Linked DNA regions of Homo sapiens: region 2 is reported to be linked to region 1. The links are microRNA targets in miRTarBase. Many come from high-throughput screens and were not tested one by one. Region 1 holds a microRNA gene; the other region holds the end of a gene's coding sequence.
What was found. The annotated mature microRNA hsa-miR-5571-5p reads CAAUUCUCAAAGGAGCCUCCC and lies in region 1 at 2,452-2,472, shown strand. An mRNA with a match to its seed (bases 2 to 7 or 8) in the 3' UTR can be bound and repressed. Matches are read on the target gene's strand: a 7mer-m8 pairs with bases 2 to 8, a 7mer-A1 pairs with bases 2 to 7 and ends in A, and an 8mer does both.

Region 1 (5,173 bases):
TGACCCAGATAAATAATACTTAATGCAATATTTTCAAAAATCAAAATTAATGCCCAACAAACCCACAATGAACAAAATTTCAGGATCTGACTCACTCACCTCAGTGGTTTTGTTCTTGGTCCTACCCACAGTCCCACAGGTGAGTGAGTACCCACAGGGATGCAAAACCAGAGTCAGGCCCCTGCACCGCCTTCTGCCCGGCCACCAGAGCCCTCCCCTGGGTCTTGGCCTTTCTCTTCTGAAGAGCTCCAGCCAGTTCCTCCTCAGGCTTCCTCTACTGCTGGTCTCTTCTGCCCCCTACTGGATTCTCCCCTTACAGCTGCACTCCAGGCAGCTGGTGGAGGTTAAAGAACAGAAACCTCCCAAAACTCCACCCTCCAGTTCCAGGCTGGCTCCACCTCATGTCCAAAAAGGCTGGTCCTCCAGGTCTTTGATTGCTATTAGTAAGTCCCAAGACACAGTCTTTACACCAAGTCGCTGTGTGCCTTGGGCAAGAAACTCTCCCTCTCTGAGACTGTGTTTCCACACTGGTAGAAGTAGCTAGAAGACCTCCCTGCCAGGTTGGCAAGTCCACTCTGTGACATCTACAAAGGGAGCAGGGATCTCTTCCATTTCCTGGAGGAGAGCTGGGGTGGAGGCTGCAACCCAGGATCACCAGAGGAGCTGGGGTCTTTGGGGTTCCTGAGGACTCCTCAGAGGGGGATCAGGAGCTGCAGAGCCAGCTTCTAACTCTGGGGACTCAGAGATCCAGAACCTTTGTCATATCCCCAGCCAATACTTTGTCATCCTGTGCCTCAGACTCCCCCAGATCCCAAGAGTGAGAAGCTCAAGATGAGACAAGAAAGACCAGCCAGCTTGAATTTAGGGATGGTGGGGAGTGGGGAGCTGGGGACCCCTGGACCTGGGGGAGAGGAGTCTGCAGTGCCTGCAGGTGGAGTTTCTGGGACCTGGGGGATGGAGACTGGGCAGGGGACTGACCAGCAGAAGGCCAAGGTGGGGGATACCCTCAGACATGGAGCAGGGCAGAAGCAACTGGATGGGGTACATCCCTCTGCTTTGGGAGAGAAGGGCCAGGGCGGGACCCAGAGAGCTCTGCAGAGGCACCACAGACCCTCAGCAGGGGGTCTGCCAAACAGGACAGCTGGACTTGGCTGCTTCTGCCCAGGCCTGGATCCAGCCCTTGCACATCTCAGGGCAGGGGATAGGCCTGGGTGGCCAGAGCTGCAGCTGCACCTGCTGGGGAGGCCTAGTCCAGTCCTCCAGGGTCCCCAGACAGACTCGGATTTCCGACTGCAGCCACCATGGAAGGATGTGGTCTGCGGTGACGATGTCTATCCAGAGGCCATGGCAGGTGCAAGGGTGGGGGTAGGGGCAGCAGCTGGGGATGCTACATTTAGGGACAGCCCCTTTTTATCCCCAAGACCTGGGACTGTCCCTGAAAGGAACCACAGCTTCTGGGTCCTGAGCAGTGGGTGAGTGTCATACCCACAGAGGGGCTGGAAGGGAGCAGCTTCAGCCTAGACTCCCAGGGCAGACCCTGCCCCAGCCCCGAATATCCAAGGAGCCCAAGATCAGAGGCAGGAATAGGCCAAGCTCCCCAGTGGAGAAGCTGTGCTGGACCAGGGGTTTCCCAGGGCCCTCCCTTGTGCCCTGAATGATGTCTGTTAGGGCACCTACACCCTGTTACTGCTCAGTGCCTTGCCTATTTTGAAGGACAGGGATGTGTGGTGATTATTTGTATAATCCAGCCCCCAGCACCTGGTCCTCAAAAGTTACCCAAGCAATGTGTATAAAGATCCAGCCTGGAGATCTTTGAAAACCGATTCGATGAGTCGAACCATTAAGTCATGATCACCATCCTCAACTTCATCTCTTTCTTCCTCCTCCTCCTCATTATCATCACCTTCAAGAACTGTTAAGAGTCTGAGACTTCATCCTATTTGCAGACTAAAAAGTAAGCCTGCCACAGTGCCATGGATGCTGGCAGAAGATACAAGACTCCTGGGTCAGAGACAACGAATAATCTGTTTTTCACAGCAATAGCAGTTGCCAAGGTATCAGCATTGTCTTGCACCAGTTCCACAAGGTGATGCAAAGAGGGCCAGGTGACATCTGCATGCCAGAGCTCAGGGATCCCAAATATTTCATACTTGACAGTAAGCATATATCTGTGTTTTGCTCCAAAGAGAGGCATTCTCTGTACCTTCCGAGGTTGTTCACTCCACAAACACTCTTGAAAAGATAATCCACAATCAGTGCCTTTGCCCGAGAGACATGCAGAAATGCAGAGATCCATAGTAGACCACTGTCTCCCAACAACCATCAACTTTATCAATGAAATGAAGTCTCAGGCTATTTGTCTGTTACCATAGCCCACAAAAATGTCTGGCTTGATTGTCACCAAATGTATCAAGGAAGTTAAGGAGTATCTGACACAAAATGTGAACCAAGCAATTCTCAAAGGAGCCTCCCAGGAAATTCACTTTAGGAAGTCCTAGGAGGCTCCTCTGAGAGTTGCTAAAACAAAACATTGAGAGTCCTAGAGGGCTGCAGATCTGAACTTGAGCAGATATTTTTAAAGATTTTGTGGCAGAAAAAGAAACTGGAAAGCAAGAGGGCAGACCCTCATTGCAGTTCTGTAATGTAAGGGGGCAGAGCAGGGGCCTTTCTCACCAGAGTATGGGGTCCTGAAGATCTCCTCAAACATTTTTATACTAGGCTCTCAGGGCAACAGAAAAGATGGGAGCGATGAATGGGGCGTAAAGGAGTGCAAATGACACAAGGGGTCACATGAAGCAAAAGAGGTTTATTCAACCAGATTTAGTCCATGTTTAATTGAGCCACTCCTTTGTGCCAAGCTCTGGGTTTTCCCATGCACCAAGCAGTGTGTTACCACCTAGACCCAGAGAGCCATGTCATCATCAGCAAAGCACGCCCTAGTGTCATGCAAGGACCAGGCCTCAGATTCCGACTCCAGACCTACTGCCTCTTGGCCCTGTGACATTAAAAGAGTAGGGAATCAGCCTGAGCAGCATTTCCTCATCTTCAAATGTGGAGGACAGTAGATGATCTTAGCTCCCAGGATTAGTGCTTGTAAAGCAATAATAATGTAATGCATTATTATTGTATTATGCATCATATTCCCATATTATAGTCAAAAAGGACCCCAACTTAAAGCACCTGCCAGCCCTCTCCTCCTCCACCACTGCCGAATGGAGCCAGGCACGAGTATTCCAGGTGGACAGACGAATAGAAATACAGGGGACGAGCCCCTTCCTAGATCCTAGCGCAGCTTGCTCCCTACTTAAGGAATGATATTGGACCCTGCATTCATCTTCTCTGGATGGTAATTTTCTCACCTGTAAAACAGAGACACTGGCCCCAAGGACACCCCACAAGTAGTTGTGAATCCCAAAGTAAGAGAAGAACAAAAAAAGAACCAGAATTTATTCAACACCCACTGAGTGCTTAGCAAACACATGGTTTCTTTAACTCTCATAAGCTTCATGCTGCAGAGGAACTCTCCCCATTTTACAGATAAGGAAACTGAGGCCCAGAGGTAACCTAGGTCTAGATAGACTCCACATTTATGACTTCACCACTCTTCCTTGCCTGAAGGATATAGAATCACTCCCTGCAGGGCTCTTGCCTGACTCAGGAAAGGGCCACAGGATAGCCAGCCAGGCTTAACCAACCCAGCCAAGAAAGGGCTGGTCCCAACTGGCTGGAGTGCAGTGTACAGGCACCCAGCCTGGAAGACTGATCAGAAAAGAAGCCACAGCTCCAGCCCCAGCCCCAACCCCCTGAGCTCAAGCCCTTGGGGACTCCTGCTGGGCAGCTCTCTAGGCCCTAGGGAGATGCTCCACAGACCCAGGCTGCCCTTTGGGAAGTGGGGAAGACAAGTGGGTCAGGTGTGCACCACCCAGGGGCGGGGCCAGGCAGCCGGCTGTGGTGGGAGGCAGTTGAGCCCTGGATTGTGACCGCTTCAGGGCAGTTGGTAGATGCCCCTCTGGGAGAGATCCCCAGGGGTGACAGCCATGGACCCTGGAAGGGCCTGGGCTAGGGACAGGGACCAGAGCCAGTCCAGGGAGAGGACAGAGCCAATGGACTGGGGTGTACTGTAACAGCCCTGCTGGCGAGAGGGACCAGGGCACCGTCCTCCAGGGAGCCCATGCTGCAAGTCGGGCCAGAGGTGCCCCTGAACCTGAAGGCCAATGAGACCCAAGACAGGCCAAGTGGGTTGTGAGACCCCTGAGGAGCTGGGCCCTGGTCCCAGGCAGCGCTGGCCCCTGCTGCTGCTGGGTCTGGCCATGGTCGCCCATGGCCTGCTGCGCCCAATGGTTGCACCGCAAAGCGGGGACCCAGACCCTGGAGCCTCAGTTGGAAGCAGCCGATCCAGCCTGCGGAGCCTGTGGGGCAGGTAAGGGGCAAGAGATTCCAGGGGATGTGGGGGTCCTGCAGCAGAGCTGGGAAAGGGTGACCAAGGGGAGACAAGCCAGAGGAGTGAGGAGGAAGGTTAACCCCTAAGAGGGGCCTGGGCTGACACTGGCTTTAGTAATGGGTTGATATTTTGTCCATCACAGATTTGTTTGAATTACTGTTTTTAATATCATATTACGATATTATTTTTCTTGATTTCTGAGTTTTCTGGCGCCACTTAAATTTTCACCAGGGTCAGTGCCTCAATCACCTAGTCCTAGTCCTCTGGGTAGGGAAGGAACAGAGGCAGGGACAGGACATCCACAGGGGGTGGTGGCCACTGTCCCCACAGGGTGCCCAGGCCTGTTCCTCCCCCTCCTCCTCTCTGCCCATGTGCCTCCTGCCCAGTGAGGGCAGGGGCCACTCCCTGGAGAAGGCAGCAAGGGCTTGGTTTGGTCTCCCCCAAGGCTGTCTGTTCACCAACTTGCACATAAATGCTTACTGGGGCCAGGCTCAAGGACACAGGGAGGGTGGGATGAACCGAGGGGAGCTGTCCAGTCATTGGAACAGGCCCACGGCCCATGTTTGGAGCAATAAAGGGAGAGGGGATCTCCCTCTGGGATGATGCCCAGGCTGGTCTCACAGATCGAGGGGCACTGGCTGGTGATGGGTGCCCCCAAAAGACAGAGCAGCGTCAGAGGAGAGGAGAGCACAGGATGAGGCTGGGAGCTCCTGGGTGACTGGGAAGGGGAGG
Region 2 (5,000 bases), not on the chromosome of region 1:
GAGTATCCTGTGGAGCACAGTGCGTGAACGCCCAGAAGAAAGCAGTCTGTGGTCAGGTGGGTTTCTGTGCCATTTGCTGCCACCTTCCCTGCAAACAGTGATTTACAGCACACATTGTTCTTGTGTCTGTTCTGCAGTGATAAAACCCATTTAACTCAGTGGTTCCCAAATGTACTGACCGTGGAACTGTTTTACTCAGGGGACACTGTTAACATCCTGTAGAAGCACAGTAGCAGGTATCCAGCCTGCATACGATAAGACAACCAGAACCAAATTTGGCAGGTACATGTCTGGAACTCTGTTTCATTATGCCGTAAAATAAAACTACGAATTTCATTCAACAAATCTGTACTGAATAAGTAGGCTTCACTCTTGGGATGTCAACTTTTAAAACTTACTTAATATCAGCTATCGTTATATAATCTTTGTTCATAATGACGCTGTCTGGTTGAACACAAACTGGCTGGGTGTTAAATTCCACTTGTGTTTATGATATTTAATAATGTCCTAAGAAGGCAGCCAGTAGAACCTTGGCTACTGTTTTTCAAAAGTGGCTCTGCATTGCTCCTACATAACCCCGTACATTACTCCACAGTCCTGTTAGAGCCCTGAAAGGGAAACTGCTAAAAATAAGGTTCTTCATTTAGGTGACTAGGAACTCCCAATATTTTTGCCCTAGGGAATACTGGGAGACAAATCTCTACGATCACAAATTACTAATGGTTTCCCCAGAACTGCTGGTGGCCATATCCCCTGGCATGTGGAAGGGCCCAGAAGAGGCCACTCTACTGCAGAGGCCAACAGAAGGTATGATTGGTGGAGGGATGGGGGGGTGGTTGGAGGGGCAAATGGAAGGGAGCTTGAGTCACTAGATCCAATCAAGCCCATAGTCATGGCCACCACTGTCCTCAAGTTCTATGAGCCAGCTTTTTTTTTTTTTTCCTTAAGCTAATTTGAGCTGTGCTTCTACCACAGCTAAGATTCATGCCTAATATATCTTTTCCCTAGATTACTCCCTATGTACCATAAAAATCTGGTGTGTAAATACACATGAAGGGCATCCCTCATCCTTATTTGCTATATTAAAAATATTAACTAACTCTTAGCTTGCTGCGGATGCCAGGAATGCAGTAATGAATTTGGAAAACTATCCAAACAAACAGGGGAATCTTCATTCGCAAAGAATATGGGAGGGAGAACAGCAGATTTTTAATTTGGATAGTAAGACGAGCAGCCCTTAAAGAACCAGGTAAAAGAAGTTGGTTTATTTAGGCTTGTTAGTGGGCAAGGTTGAGACACTGGCCAAGATACTTTTTTTTTTGGGGGGGGGGGGGGTGGTGATTGATTGATAGGGTCTCACTCTATTGCCCAGGCTGGAGTGCAGTGGAGCAATCATAGCCACGACCTCCCAGGCTCAAGTGATCCTCCCACCTCAGCCTCCTGAACAGCTGGGACCACAGGTGCACACCTGGCTGATTTATTTTATTTATTTATTTATTTATTTTTTTTTTTGTAGAGTGTTGCCCAGGCTGGTCTCAAACTTCTGGGCTCAAGCAACCCTCCAGCCTCGGCCTCCCAAAGTGTTGGGATCATAGGCATGAGACACCGTGCCTGGCGAAGATATTTTTACCGAAAAGGACAGAGGGTGTACTTGGAGGTAAGGGACCCAATTCCATTAGTCTAGCCACAATAATGTGTTTGTTTCCTCATAACCACAGTCTTGGTTGGGCTGCTGTAACTAAATATCAACTGGGTGGCTTATAAACAATAGAAATTTCTCACAGTTCTGGCTGGAAAGTCTAGGTTCAAGGCACTGGCAGATTCAGTATCTGGTGAGAACCCACTTTCTGGTTCACGGATGGTGACTTCTTGCTGTGTTCTCCCATGGCAGAAGAAATGAGGGGGTCTCTATCTTATCTTGAGTCTCTTTTAAAAGGCACTACCCTCATGATCTAATCACCTTCCAAAGGCCCCAGCTTCTATTACCATTACCTGGGGGGTTAAGGTTTCACCACCTGAATTTTGGGGAGGATACAAAAATACAGACCACAGGAGCCACTGAATGCGGGGAGCGAGACAGCTCCCCAGCTGCTCAGTAATGGAGAGCTGAGAGGGTGGAGGTCTGTTTTCTCAGCCATTCTTAGTGTTTTTATTCTAGGACTGATCTTAACTTGAGGATCACAGGTTTTTTTGTACAATGGAGTTCTGTTTGTTTGTAATTTTTTTTTTTTTTTGAGACGGAGCTTTGCTCTTGTAGCCCAGGCGGGCGTGCAATGGCACGATCTCGGCTCACTGCAGCCTCTGCATCCCGGGTTTAAGCAATTCTCCTGCCTCAGCCTCCTGTGTAGCTGGGATTACAGGCACACAATACCACACCTGGCTAATTTTTTGTATTTTTAGTAGAGACGGGGTTTCACCATGTTGGCCAGGCTGGTCTAGAACTCCTGACCTCAGGTGATCTACCCACCTCGGCCTCCCAAAGTGATGGAATTATAGGCATGAGCCACTGCGCCTGGCTGTTTGTTTGTAATTTATTTTTTAAATGAATATAAATAAGATCCCCAGGACCGCAAGTGCAGGGATGCTAAATAACCTGTCTTGATCCCTCATCTGGTGAGAAGTAGAAAGAGGATTAGATTCCAGATGTTCTGATGACCAGGCCATATCCCCTGAGTGCTAAGGTTGACATTAAAAATTCATTACAAAGATCCTGCCCTCCTGTCCTTGGACATCACAGCTCCTGCTTGTTCCTGGGCATTCAGACTCTGGGACTTATACCAGCATTCCCCATGCCCCTCCCCAGGTTCTTAGGCATTTGGACTTGAACCAAGTTGTTATACCACCAGCTTTCCTGGGTCTCCATAAGAGTGGGACCCTGATCCAATACAATTAGTGTTGCTGTAAGAAGAGACATGAGAGCCTATTTTCTCTCTCCCCCACCAGGCACATACCAAAGAAATGCCATGTGAGAACAAGCAAGAAGGTGGCCATCTGTAAACCAGGAAGAGTGTCCTCACCAGAAAATGAAGTGGCTTCAACTTTGATCTCAGAATTCCAGCCTCCATAACTGTGAGAAAATACATTTCTGTTCTTTCAGCCAGTCTATGGCATTACATTATAGCAACCCAAGCAAACTAAGGCATGCCCAGAAATGACTACAGGGGTAAAAATGAGCAGATAATTGGTTTTTAGTGTCCTGAAGTTTATCTGCTTTTCCTTATGTACTTATATCGTTGCCACTGCCACCAGGCTACTCTTCCTTCTTGTCTGCTCCCAAACAGGGAAGAGCGAGCATAATGGTTCCTAAACATTTCCGTTATACCCGTACAGTTCTGATAGAGTTGTAAAAATGGGAGAATATGAAGGTTATTCAGGCTTCCCAATGATATGGTGTGAGATTCACTCTGTACTAAATATCCCAAAACTCTAGCCACAAACACAGCAAAACTCAAAGTCAACAAGTTTTCACTGAAAATAGATTTCATTTCATTCAAATTAGAAATGTGTTCTCCCAAACCGCCTCCCAACAAAGGTCTCTGCTTGATAAATGAAAAGATAGTAAAAGAAAACTTCACATTTCTTTTTATGTGGATCTATCAAAAGGTACATAATCAAAACAACTTTAACACCCGACCTATCCATGAGGAGTCTGGATGATTCACTCTGAAGGAAAAGGGGAGAGAAGAGAGAATCACTGCTCTGATTTGAAGTGTGCAAAGTTCTTATCTATGTCACTTAACACTGGTATAATTAATACAGAAAGGAAAATGACCCTCAAGAGGAAGGTTTCATTGAGCAGAGCGTAAGAGGAACAATAAGAGGGTAGGAGACACCTCCTGAGAAGGTTTGCTTGTGTTCAGCTGAAGATTAATAGGAAACAGTGAAAAAGCAACGTCCTGTGATCAGTAACTTTAAAGACAAGCTTGGTTCTCTCTTTCTGGCACTACTGACATTCCCACCATTCTAGCTTCCAAATTCTGGAAAAAGAGAAGATGATTAACAAAAATAGAGAATGTAGAAACTTCTGGTTTTGTGCCTACAGGATTGGCACCAGACCCTCAGTGCTCACTTGCTCCATCTACAAGGCAGCACCCCTCCCAGAGGCAGCCAGGGAGGCCTCTCCACCAGGGCCTGCGCTGGCTGGTGGTGCGGCTTCCTCCCTGGGCGCAGCACCAAGTGCACGTCTCCTACTTGGCCATCTTGCGGATCATGTAGTTGAGGATGCCCCCGTTGAGGAAATAAGTGAGCTCCACATCAGTGTCAAACCTCATGACAGCCTGGAAGGTCTTGCCAGTATCCAGCTGTGGCACAAAGAAACAGAAGCATCATTGAGGGAGGTGGCGAGACAGCTCTGCTCGGAGGAAATTCTGCCCAGCCTGCCCCTCAGGTGTGGTCCACACTTCAGTAACACCAGCAGCACATGAGGACATGCAAGGCTGCTGGCCCCAGCCCAGACCCACTAAATCAGAAGATGCATTTCAGCAAGATCTCTGGGAGGCTGCTTTGCCCATTACAGTTTGAGAATCACTGCAGACTGTAAATGATGGGGGTGAGAGCCATCTAAGAACTAGAAATAGCTTCTCAGGGCAGTAGCTATTAATGACATCAGGGTGGTATTTTCTAAACCTCTGGGGGCTCCCTGTGGACAGAAGTATTCAATCAGCAGAGATTTCATTAAGGTTGTCCCTTAGGCAGCTGGCCCATCTGCTTATCTGAGACACAGACTTTTGCACTGCCTCTGTCTGGGGCACCGAATGACCCCTGGGACCTGGTGCTGGGCACTTTATCTTTACCTTGCCTAGGGATCTATCATTTTCACTCTTGGGCTAATCAAAGCCTGGTGCCTATGGGCAGGCTTAGGGAGGGGTGAGTATATCTGTTGCTCACGTTTTTATAGTGAAATGTTTTAGGTAATGTGAAATGTCACATCCCTGAGCTCTCATCACGAGAGACCGGGAACAGGGTACAGTAGGGGGTGGGAGGTAAGAATGGAACTGAGG

Region 2: miRTarBase lists ACO1 as a target of hsa-miR-5571-5p. Seed matches in the 3' UTR shown: 7mer-m8 at 2,321-2,327.

Annotation. Positions count from the first base shown.
Region 1 is chr22:22,883,840-22,889,012 of GRCh38, forward strand. MIR5571 (microRNA 5571) reads left to right here and starts at 2,428; the gene lies at 2,428-2,540. IGLL5 (immunoglobulin lambda like polypeptide 5) reads left to right here and starts at 3,977. Exons shown (of 3, transcript NM_001178126.2): 1 at 3,977-4,420. The coding sequence starts at 4,215. LOC105372948 (a long non-coding RNA gene) reads right to left here and starts at 760. Exons shown (of 4, transcript XR_938047.2): 1 at 100-760. It also overlaps IGL.
Region 2 is chr9:32,449,299-32,454,298 of GRCh38, reverse strand. ACO1 (aconitase 1) reads right to left here. Exons shown (of 21, transcript NM_002197.3): 21 at 1-4,301. The coding sequence ends at 4,188. Among named protein-coding and RNA genes, the nearest start is that of ACO1, 67 kb to the right of the region's middle.